Regions from separate parts of the Homo sapiens genome. Here region 1 is linked to region 2. The links come from fine-mapping of genetic effects on gene expression. Tissue or cell type: whole blood. Region 2 holds a variant in brackets; the other region holds the start of a gene. All regions are shown on one strand. Distances are between the middles of the regions.

Region 1 (4,312 bases), 32 kb after region 2:
TGGTGCCCCCGTGAAGTCGGCCACCCCACGTCTCCCGCATCCCGGAGGCCTCCCTGTGAAGTGGACGCGGCGTCTCACACATCCGGGCACCTGTGGGTGCACGTGGCACTGGGCATGTCATGGAGCCCACCAAGTCTGCGAGGGGTGAGGAGCTGAGTCCCTGCAGAAACCAAGGCCACGTCGGACTCTACCAGTGGTCAGCAAGGCCCGGCCCTTCTCCTCGGGTCACAGGGCTGGAAATGCCTCCTGCTCTTCTCCGGCAGAATCTCAGTTGTCTGGGGGCAGCCACAAAGCTCCAGGGAGGATGCGCTCCTGGGCCGTGGTCTCGAACCCTGAGGGTGCTGGTGCCTGGGGGAGGCTGTGCAGGGTGGACATCTTTGCCAGACAGGACAAGCGGCCACACAGAAGCCCGGCCTCCCTGCTGCGGCACCTCCCATCGTGCAGTTTTGGGCAAATCCAGCAGGTGTTGAGGGAAATGTCAGCCACAATGGGGCTCAATCCCTCCCTCCATCCGACCCCGGCCTCTAAGTCCGCACTGTGGTGGCATCGGGCGGCATTATTGGAGATCCACTCCCCGCCCCAACTTAAATTCCCGCTAAGCAGCCTTGGCGTAACTTATTCTTTTGAGAACTTTGCACGTCTTGAGGGAACCCCGTGGGGAGGGAGGTAGGGTGCAGCCTCCTAACTACTCACGCCCCCCAAATAGCACATATTTGGATTTTTAAACTCAGAGAAGAACACATATTTTTACATCATTACCTCTTAAAATTGTCCCCAGGGCTTGAGCAAGCAAACCCCGAGTCCTACCGGGCTGTCTCACTTCCACGGCCCCGTGGACACCTTTGCGAAGGGGAGGCGGAGCTGCCGAGGCCGCGGGAGGGGAGGGGAGCGCCAGCTCGCAGCTCCGTGTCAGCCCCTCAGCCCTGTGCTCTGGGCCAGTATTCAAGGTGTGAGGAGGTGACTGCAGCACCATCCCCAGGCCCACACCACCGTCCGTTCGGCACACCTGGAAACATCTCAGAGTGGCGAGTGTGGACCGACACAGGGGCAGCCTACACGTTTCGCGGTTTAGAAGCCAACCGTGTCAAACACCAGCTACGCAGGTTCCTTGCTGGTGGGTGAGGCCCAGAGCTCCTGGCAGGGACCCAGGCCCTCACCAGGGCCTTCTTGCAAACGGGGCGCCTGGCTATGATCCTCCCTTCAGGCATCGGCTGGCTTCGGAGGCCCATGAGGGTCCCAGGCCTGCCCTCCTCTCACCCCTCCCGCCCTTGGCTGTGCCCGGCTGGAGCCCCCACAGCTCCGCCCCAGCAGCGCAAGGCCTTCCCAGCAGCCCTGGGTGGGTTACGGGTGTGGACCTGGAGTGCTCCCCACTTCCACCCTTAGCGTTCCGAGCACAGGGCAGCGGGAGGCAGGAGGCCCGGCCCGGTCCCTGCTGCCGGTGGAAGGAAAATGAATCTTGGGCCCTGAATCACTGAGCTAAGGGGAGGAGTAAGGCTGGGAATGTGTCAGACAAACCTGCCTCCCATCCTCTTCCTAAACAAGAGCTGCAGAGATAAACGGCCACAGGCCTCCCTCATCATTCACCCACGAGGAAATTCCTTGTGAGCCTTAAGATCTCTGCCCTAAGCAGTTTTGTGGAGTTTCACGCTGGGAATGCACGTGGACAGCTGACCGTCAACAGGCGCAGGACAGGGACAGAGATCACGGTCCTCCCTCTGCTCACCTGAGACAAGTGTGTCCGACAGCTCCCTCTGGGCTGCTCATGAAAAACCGCAGTCACGGAGCCGGACGAGGATACAAGTGACTCTCCCTCTAGTCCCCTCACGTGTAAATTGTGTGTTCAGTGAAAGGCTGATCGAGACCCAAAGAATGCAGCCCTGTGTCTCCTCTACCTACGACCTGGAAGCCCCTCCTGCTTCAGGCTGTCCCTTTCCGGACAGAACCGACGTACCCCCTCACAGGTGCTGATTGATGCCCCACGCCCCCCTGCAATGTATGACGTCAGGCCGTGCCCCGCCTTGGACACACGTCGTTGGACCTCCTGGGGCTGTCTCGGCGCATCCCTAACCTTGGGAACTTCCTAGAACTTTCTAACTGGGCTGGGCTCTGACGCAGGTACTTTGGGTTCAGTGCCTGGTGGGACAGCCGCGCCGTCCACCCGCTCCCCGCGGCCCCACAGCCCCTACCCAGCTCCTTGTGAGGCTTCCTAGGGCGGCTGGGAGGGTCCCCCTCGGGCTGCAGGCCTCCCAGACTCCTGCTTCGCTGAAGTTCAGAGGCCTCACTGGCCGCCTTGAGGTGCCCAAGGGCCACTCCTGAGGGCAGGGCCCTGAGGCCGGGCCGGTGCCTCCTGTGTGTGGTCCCCGTGTCCTTCTCCATCCTCCAGCCCAGCCTCGGCTTGAGCACAAGGCTGCCACCCTCACACCCAGCCGTCCCGCAGGGAGTAGTCAGGAGGTGCTGGGAGTGCGTTGCCATGGGTCTGCTGTGACATCACTGTAAGGTCAGAGGCCAAAGATCAGCCGATCCCTGGCAGCACAGCGTGGCTTTCCTGCAGGCCGGGGCTGGGGCGGGTTCTGCGTCTTCCCTTCTTCTTTCCCGCAGGCCGGGGCTGGGGCGGGTTCTGCGTCTTCCCTTCTTCTTTCCCGCAGGCCGGGGTTGGGGCGGGTTCTGCGTCTTCCCTTCTTCTTTCCCGCAGGCCGGGGCTGGGGCGGGTTCTGCGTCTTCCCTTCTTCTTTCCCGCAGGCCGGGGTTGGGGCGGGTTCTGCGTCTTCCCTTCTTCTTTCCCGCAGGCCGGGGCTGGGGCGGGTTCTGCGTCTTCCCTTCTTCTTTCCCGCAGGCCGGGGCTGGGGCGGGTTCTGCGTTTTCACATCTCTGGTCTCTCCACCAGGGAGGGCGGGGAACTGGCACCAGCCCTAGCAGGGCCTGCAGATGAGACGCCGGTCTCCCTCTGTGACAGGGTATTTGAATCTTTCTCTCCCTATCAGGGCAAATGGGACACAGATCAACTCAGGAAGACAAAGGCAGCCCCTGCAGGCAGTGGTGGGGTGCAAATGCTGCCGGCCCAGCGCCTCTCCCCACCCACACGGCGCCAGGACGAAACCCTGATGTGGCCGGGGCTCCGGCGAGGGCTTTCCGGGCCGACGGTGTGAACTGCACAGGTCAGCGTGGGTTTGCTGGCACTCCCAGGCAGGCGGCTTAAACAGCGGGAGCTCATTCCCTCCGGTGCTGGGGGCAAGGTGTCTCGCAGCGCTGGTTACCCGAGGCCTCTCTCCTTGGCGCGAAGATGACGTATTCCGTGTCCTCACGTGGTGGTCCTGTGTGCTGCGTCCTCGTCTCCCCTTCTCATGAGGACGCTGGTCACACTGGGTCAGGGCCTCGCTTTACCTTGACAATCTCTACAGCTCCACGCCCAAGTGCAGCCACACCCTGAGGTCCTGAGGGTCACAGGGTCACAGCTCCAGCATGAGGATTTGCCGGGACAGAGTTCAGCCTGTACTGAGCCGAACAGAAAATCCCCGGCACGCTGTCTCCTCCAGCCTCCAGACCACGGTGGGTGGGGAGGCAACATTTTACCTCTTGGGGTTTTTTGGTCGGGCCTGATAATTAAAATCAGCAGATGAGCTGGAGAAAGGCACACGCACTCCAGCACGGTCTGTGTGGCCGGGAATGGCCTTTCCTTCCTGAAAGAGGAGGTAACACCCCACGGGGAAGACGCTCTCCAGAGCCAGAAGAAAGCAGCGTTCTTATCCTTGTGGATGGCTGTTTCAGCTCAAAACAACCCTTACAACAGTGTGGCTTATTTGGGCAGCCCCTTCTGCCCCTTGACAGGCACCTCGCGAGCCGGCGCACCCCCCCGCCCCCAGGACCCGCTTCCCGCACCCGGGGCTCCTCAGCCAGGGGGAAGCAGGTGTGACCCCCAGGCTGCAGGCTCCCCTCCTTCTGATCTCTTCTTTTGAAGAGCCCACAGCCTCTCAGCACCCAGGAGGCCTCAGCTCTCTGGGCAAGTGGTGGGTGCAGGGTGGGGGCCTTGGCCTCACACACGCTCTGGCACTGCCTGGCCTCCTGGGACGGTTCCTCAGAGGCACCTGCTTTGGACACTCTGATGTCGGGAGCCCCGCGGATGCTGCCAGGATGGGAGAGGAGGCCGCTGTCTCTCTCCAACAAGTGCTGGGTCGTCTGGAGCAACAAGGGCAAATGGGCGTCACTGGGGTCTCCACAAAGCCACCTGCAGTCTCTTGGTGGGTGTATTAGACAGTTTCCATGCTGCTGATAAAGACATACCTGAGACTGGGTAATTTATAAAGAAGAGGTTGAA
Region 2 (4,379 bases):
GAGCCAGAGCCTCCTGTCTGTCATGTGTGTGGGCTCTGACGCAGGGGGACCAGGATGCCCGGGTGGCAGCCGTGATCAGGGGAGGCATTCGGGCCACCTCAGAGGCCCCAAGAGGCTACCTGCCTGCCTGGCCCTGCCCATGCGGCCAAAGTCCACCCCAGGGGCGGGGGCTGCGCCTCGGCCTCAGATGCACCGTCAGCCGCATTTGGCTCCTCTTACTACTGAAGAGGGGAAGGAAGAGTGTGCAGCAGGGGCCTGGGCCGTTTCCCCGGAAGCGAAGAGCAGGAGGCCAGAGCCAGGTGGGCTCCCCTAGACCCTGCGGTGCTGCCGCCAAGCCCCCCACCCCCAGATGAGCCAGCCTGCAGCACACACTGGCGGGGTGGATGCCAGCCGAGTATTCCCAGGGGAAGCACTTTCCCTGTGCCACCCAGACAGAAGACGCAGGTGCTGGTTTCCTATGGGGCTCTGCGTGAGGATGGGCGTCTGGGACCCTGGTCTCCTCTAGGACTCCATGTGTGAGGCTGGGCATTCGAGACCCTGGTCTCTGGGACTCCATGTGTGAGGCTGAGCGTTCGAGACCCTGGTCTCTGGGACTCCATGTGTGAGGCTGAGCGTTCGAGACCCTGGTCTCTGGGACTCCATGTGTGAGGCTGAGCGTTCGAGATCCTGGTCTCCTCTGGGACTCCGTGTGTGAGGCTGAGCGTTCGAGACCCTGGTCTCTGGGACTCCATGTGTGAGGCTGAGCGTTCGAGATCCTGGTCTCCTCTGGGACTCCGTGTGTGAGGCTGAGCGTTCGAGACCCTGGTCTCTGGGACTCCATGTGTGAGGCTGAGCGTTCGAGACCCTGGTCTCTGGGACTCCATGTGTGAGGCTGAGCGTTCGAGATCCTGGTCTCCTCTGGGACTCCGTGTGTGAGGCTGAGCGTTCGAGACCCTGGTCTCTGGGACTCCATGTGTGAGGCTGAGCGTTCGAGACCCTGGTCTCTGGGACTCCATGTGTGAGGCTGAGCGTTCGAGATCCTGGTCTCCTCTGGGACTCCGTGTGTGAGGCTGAGCGTTCGAGACCCTGGTCTCTGGGACTCCATGTGTGAGGCTGAGCGTTCGAGACCCTGGTCTCTGGGACTCCATGTGTGAGGCTGAGCGTTCGAGATCCTGGTCTCCTCTGGGACTCCGTGTGTGAGGCTGAGCGTTCGAGACCCTGGTCTCTGGGACTCCATGTGTGAGGCTGAGCGTTCGAGATCCTGGTCTCCTCTGGGACTCCGTGTGTGAGGCTGAGCGTTCGAGACCCTGGTCTCTGGGACTCCATGTGTGAGGCTGAGCGTTCGAGACCCTGGTCTCTGGGACTCCATGTGTGAGGCTGAGCGTTCGAGATCCTGGTCTCCTCTGGGACTCCGTGTGTGAGGCTGAGCGTTCGAGACCCTGGTCTCTGGGACTCCATGTGTGAGGCTGAGCGTTCGAGACCCTGGTCTCTGGGACTCCATGTGTGAGGCTGAGCGTTCGAGATCCTGGTCTCTGGGACTCCATGTGTGAGGCTGAGCGTTCGAGACCCTGATCTCCTCTGGGACTCCATGTGTGAGGCTGGGCATTCGATACCCTGGTCTCTGGGACTCTGTGTGTGAGGCTGGGCGTCTGAGACCCAGGAACGTGCTGGAAACAGGAGCTGTTGACATCGTTTCCCAGGCTGGGCTGCTGCTGTTTCTCTGCCTGTCAGATGGAGACACAGTTCCAGCCTCGCAGGTGGCCTTCAGCACAGCACGCCAGGCACCCTGGGTGCTGCCCCCACTCTCCCCACCCAGAAGGCAGCTGCGCAGGGTCCCTGGCCTGGAGGACCTGCCTGGACCTGCCCAGCGCCCTGGACGAGGTCTGCCCTAGGCCTCCGCATGTCACCTGTCCTCTGAGCAGTTCCTGCCACTGCTTTACTCTCACCGCCTTCCTCTCCCCTTAGCACTTTACCTCCAAATGGGCTGTCCTTGCCGGCGGCTGACTCATTGCTCCTCCAGAGCAGGGAAGTTTGCAATGAGCTGAAGTCCTGTGGAGCCCAGAGCCGGAGGCTCACCCCCAGATTTAATTAATTAAAAAGTAAGAGCTTGTGAAGGTCACAGGGGCCAACATGAAGAGCTGCCAAAGGCCGATCATGGTGGCATGAGCAACAAAACGCACAGAGGCCGTGCTGATTGCAAACCACAGAATCCACTACTGTGGTCACTGACCTACACTTTTCACAAACCACAGAATACAATAGACGCATATGAGTTCTGCTGCTGTCGCCACTGGCCGGGTCAACACGCAGCCCGGGAGGAGGGACCCACTGCTCTTCCCTGCAGGAGAACCTCGATGGATAAATGCCTGAGGAAATGGGGAAACAGAAAATCACCACGAG[T/G]CAAAGTCCACGGAACTGATTGCTGCTGACAAGACCCCCATGGATGCCAAAATCAGAGAAGTTCCAGGAGAATCAGGATTTGGTCTCCCAGTGTCTCCAGGACGATTATCCCCTACAGAGGAAGGACGGCGATTTGACCAGGAGACTCGGCAGACACCACCTGGACCTGTAGTTGGACACATCAGCTCAGGAGCCACTGAGAGACAGCCTTACCTCCACAGGATGCTTGCCAAATGGGCTGGACTTCATACAGTCCTGAGAACACGAGACAGCAAAATCCATGCCCAGCCCCCAGGACAAGGATGGCCAGAGCTGACGCGGGCACGGGCAACCAGGGGACTGGGTGTCTGGATGCAGTGAGGGAGGATGAGGGAGACGGCAGGGCGCGGTAGGAACCCCTGGGCCAGCGGGCTCCAGGCAGCGGAGGCGGCCTGTTGGTGATCGGTCAGCCAGTTACTGTGCCCTTTACCTTGAGGATGGGACACAGGTCCTCTGGCGTCTCCTTGGACTCCCTGATGCCTCTGAGAAAGGCACAGCGCCCCAGTGCCCGCCGGAGGTGAGGTGGGAGCCAGGTGGGAGCAGTCAGTGCCCCTCACGAGCACTGCAGATGGCCGGCGGCCATGGCTCTCTAAGGCCCGCTTGGTGGATGCTGAGCCCTGCCCTCAGGGAGCGCTGGCCCCTCGGGTCCCTGGGCCCTGACAGTCCCACTGAGGCTCGGCTCCATTTCTGCAAATGGCTGCCTCCCACAGGAGAGCTCGGGGAGAGCTCCGGGCCGGGGTCAGACAGCAGCGTTGGCTCCTGTCAACAAAGAGTCAAACTCTGTAAAATGTGGGGAGATTCATTCTGAGCCCAAGACAAGTGACCGTGGGCCATGACCCAGCCCTCAGGAGGGCCTGAGGACATGTGTCCAGGGTGGTCAGAGAGTAGCTTGCTTTTATGCATTTTAGGGAGAATGAGACTTCAGGCAATACATTTAAGAAATATGCTGGTTCGGCTCAGAAAGGCAGGGCAATGCAAAGCAGTCAGGGGAGCAGAACTCTCAGGTTATAGGAAGATTTAAAAACTTTCCGGTGGACAATTGGTTACATTTATCTAAAGACCTGGGATCAATAATAGAAAGGAATGCCTGAGTTCAGATCCAGGATCCTGGAAACCCAGGTTCTTATTTGTGGAGGAGGCCTTCAGGTAGCAGCTTCAGAGGGCTGTGAAATGTTTCTCATCAGACTTCAGGTCTGTGTGGACGTTAATGCTGGAAAGGTAGAACGAGGCATGTCTGACCCCCGTTCCCGTCATGGCTGGAAACCACCTCTCGGGTTACATTTTAAGAGGGCTCTGGTGAGGACGAGGTCCACTCAGATGGTTGGGAACCTTAGTGTTTTATTTTTGGCTTACGCTCTGTTGGTGGGTGATGACGAGTGTCAGGCATGGCCCCTTGCAACGTGAGGGAAGGCAGCAGGGCCTGTGGCCAGGGCTGGTGGGAGCCCTACCAGACATTCCATGGAAACACCTGGTGGAGGAGGCTCTCAGCAAATGCCCGCAGTCCCTGCACCCGGCTGGCACATCTCCACGAGCGCGCCTCCTCCACACACTCATCGTGGGCAGGTTTGGTCATCACTGACGGGCTGCTCTGCCTCTCCTCTCCTCTGGCTCGGGACCTTCAGTATCCCGACAGGAAGGAATGCGGTACAAGTGCATCCCAAGACGCACGCTGCAGGTCACCCCAAGGCCTCACAGACCCCAGTCACCCCGGGATGGATCCCTCCCCAGGTTGTGACCTTGCTCCCCTCCTGCTGGAAACCTTCTCCAGACACAAGCCCCTCAGGTGGCAGGGCTCATCTTGTCCTGGAGGCTGCCTTCCCCTCCCCTGATGCTCCAGACCCCTCCAGGTCACCTGGAGATGGATGCAGAGAAGCTGCCCAGCTCCCCATGTCCAGGGTCACCTCACTGCCGGGACCCCCTCCAGTGGGCTTGCACCCCCCTGCCACCCCATTCTGATCCCG

What was found. PIP is the estimated chance that this variant, and not a neighbour inherited with it, causes the effect.
Region 1: it holds the start of C13orf46, and the variant in region 2 is fine-mapped to the expression of C13orf46 in whole blood (TOPMed, PIP above 0.99).

What each region holds. Positions count from the first base shown.
Region 1 is chr13:113,971,622-113,975,933 of GRCh38, forward strand. C13orf46 (chromosome 13 open reading frame 46) reads right to left here and starts at 2,455. Exons shown (of 7, transcript NM_001365455.2): 1 at 2,187-2,455. The coding sequence starts at 2,376.
Region 2 is chr13:113,939,959-113,944,337 of GRCh38, forward strand. It overlaps a transcript of C13orf46 not described here. Among named protein-coding and RNA genes, the nearest start is that of SWINGN, 13 kb to the left of the region's middle. The variant T/G (reference allele first, on the strand shown) is at 2,380.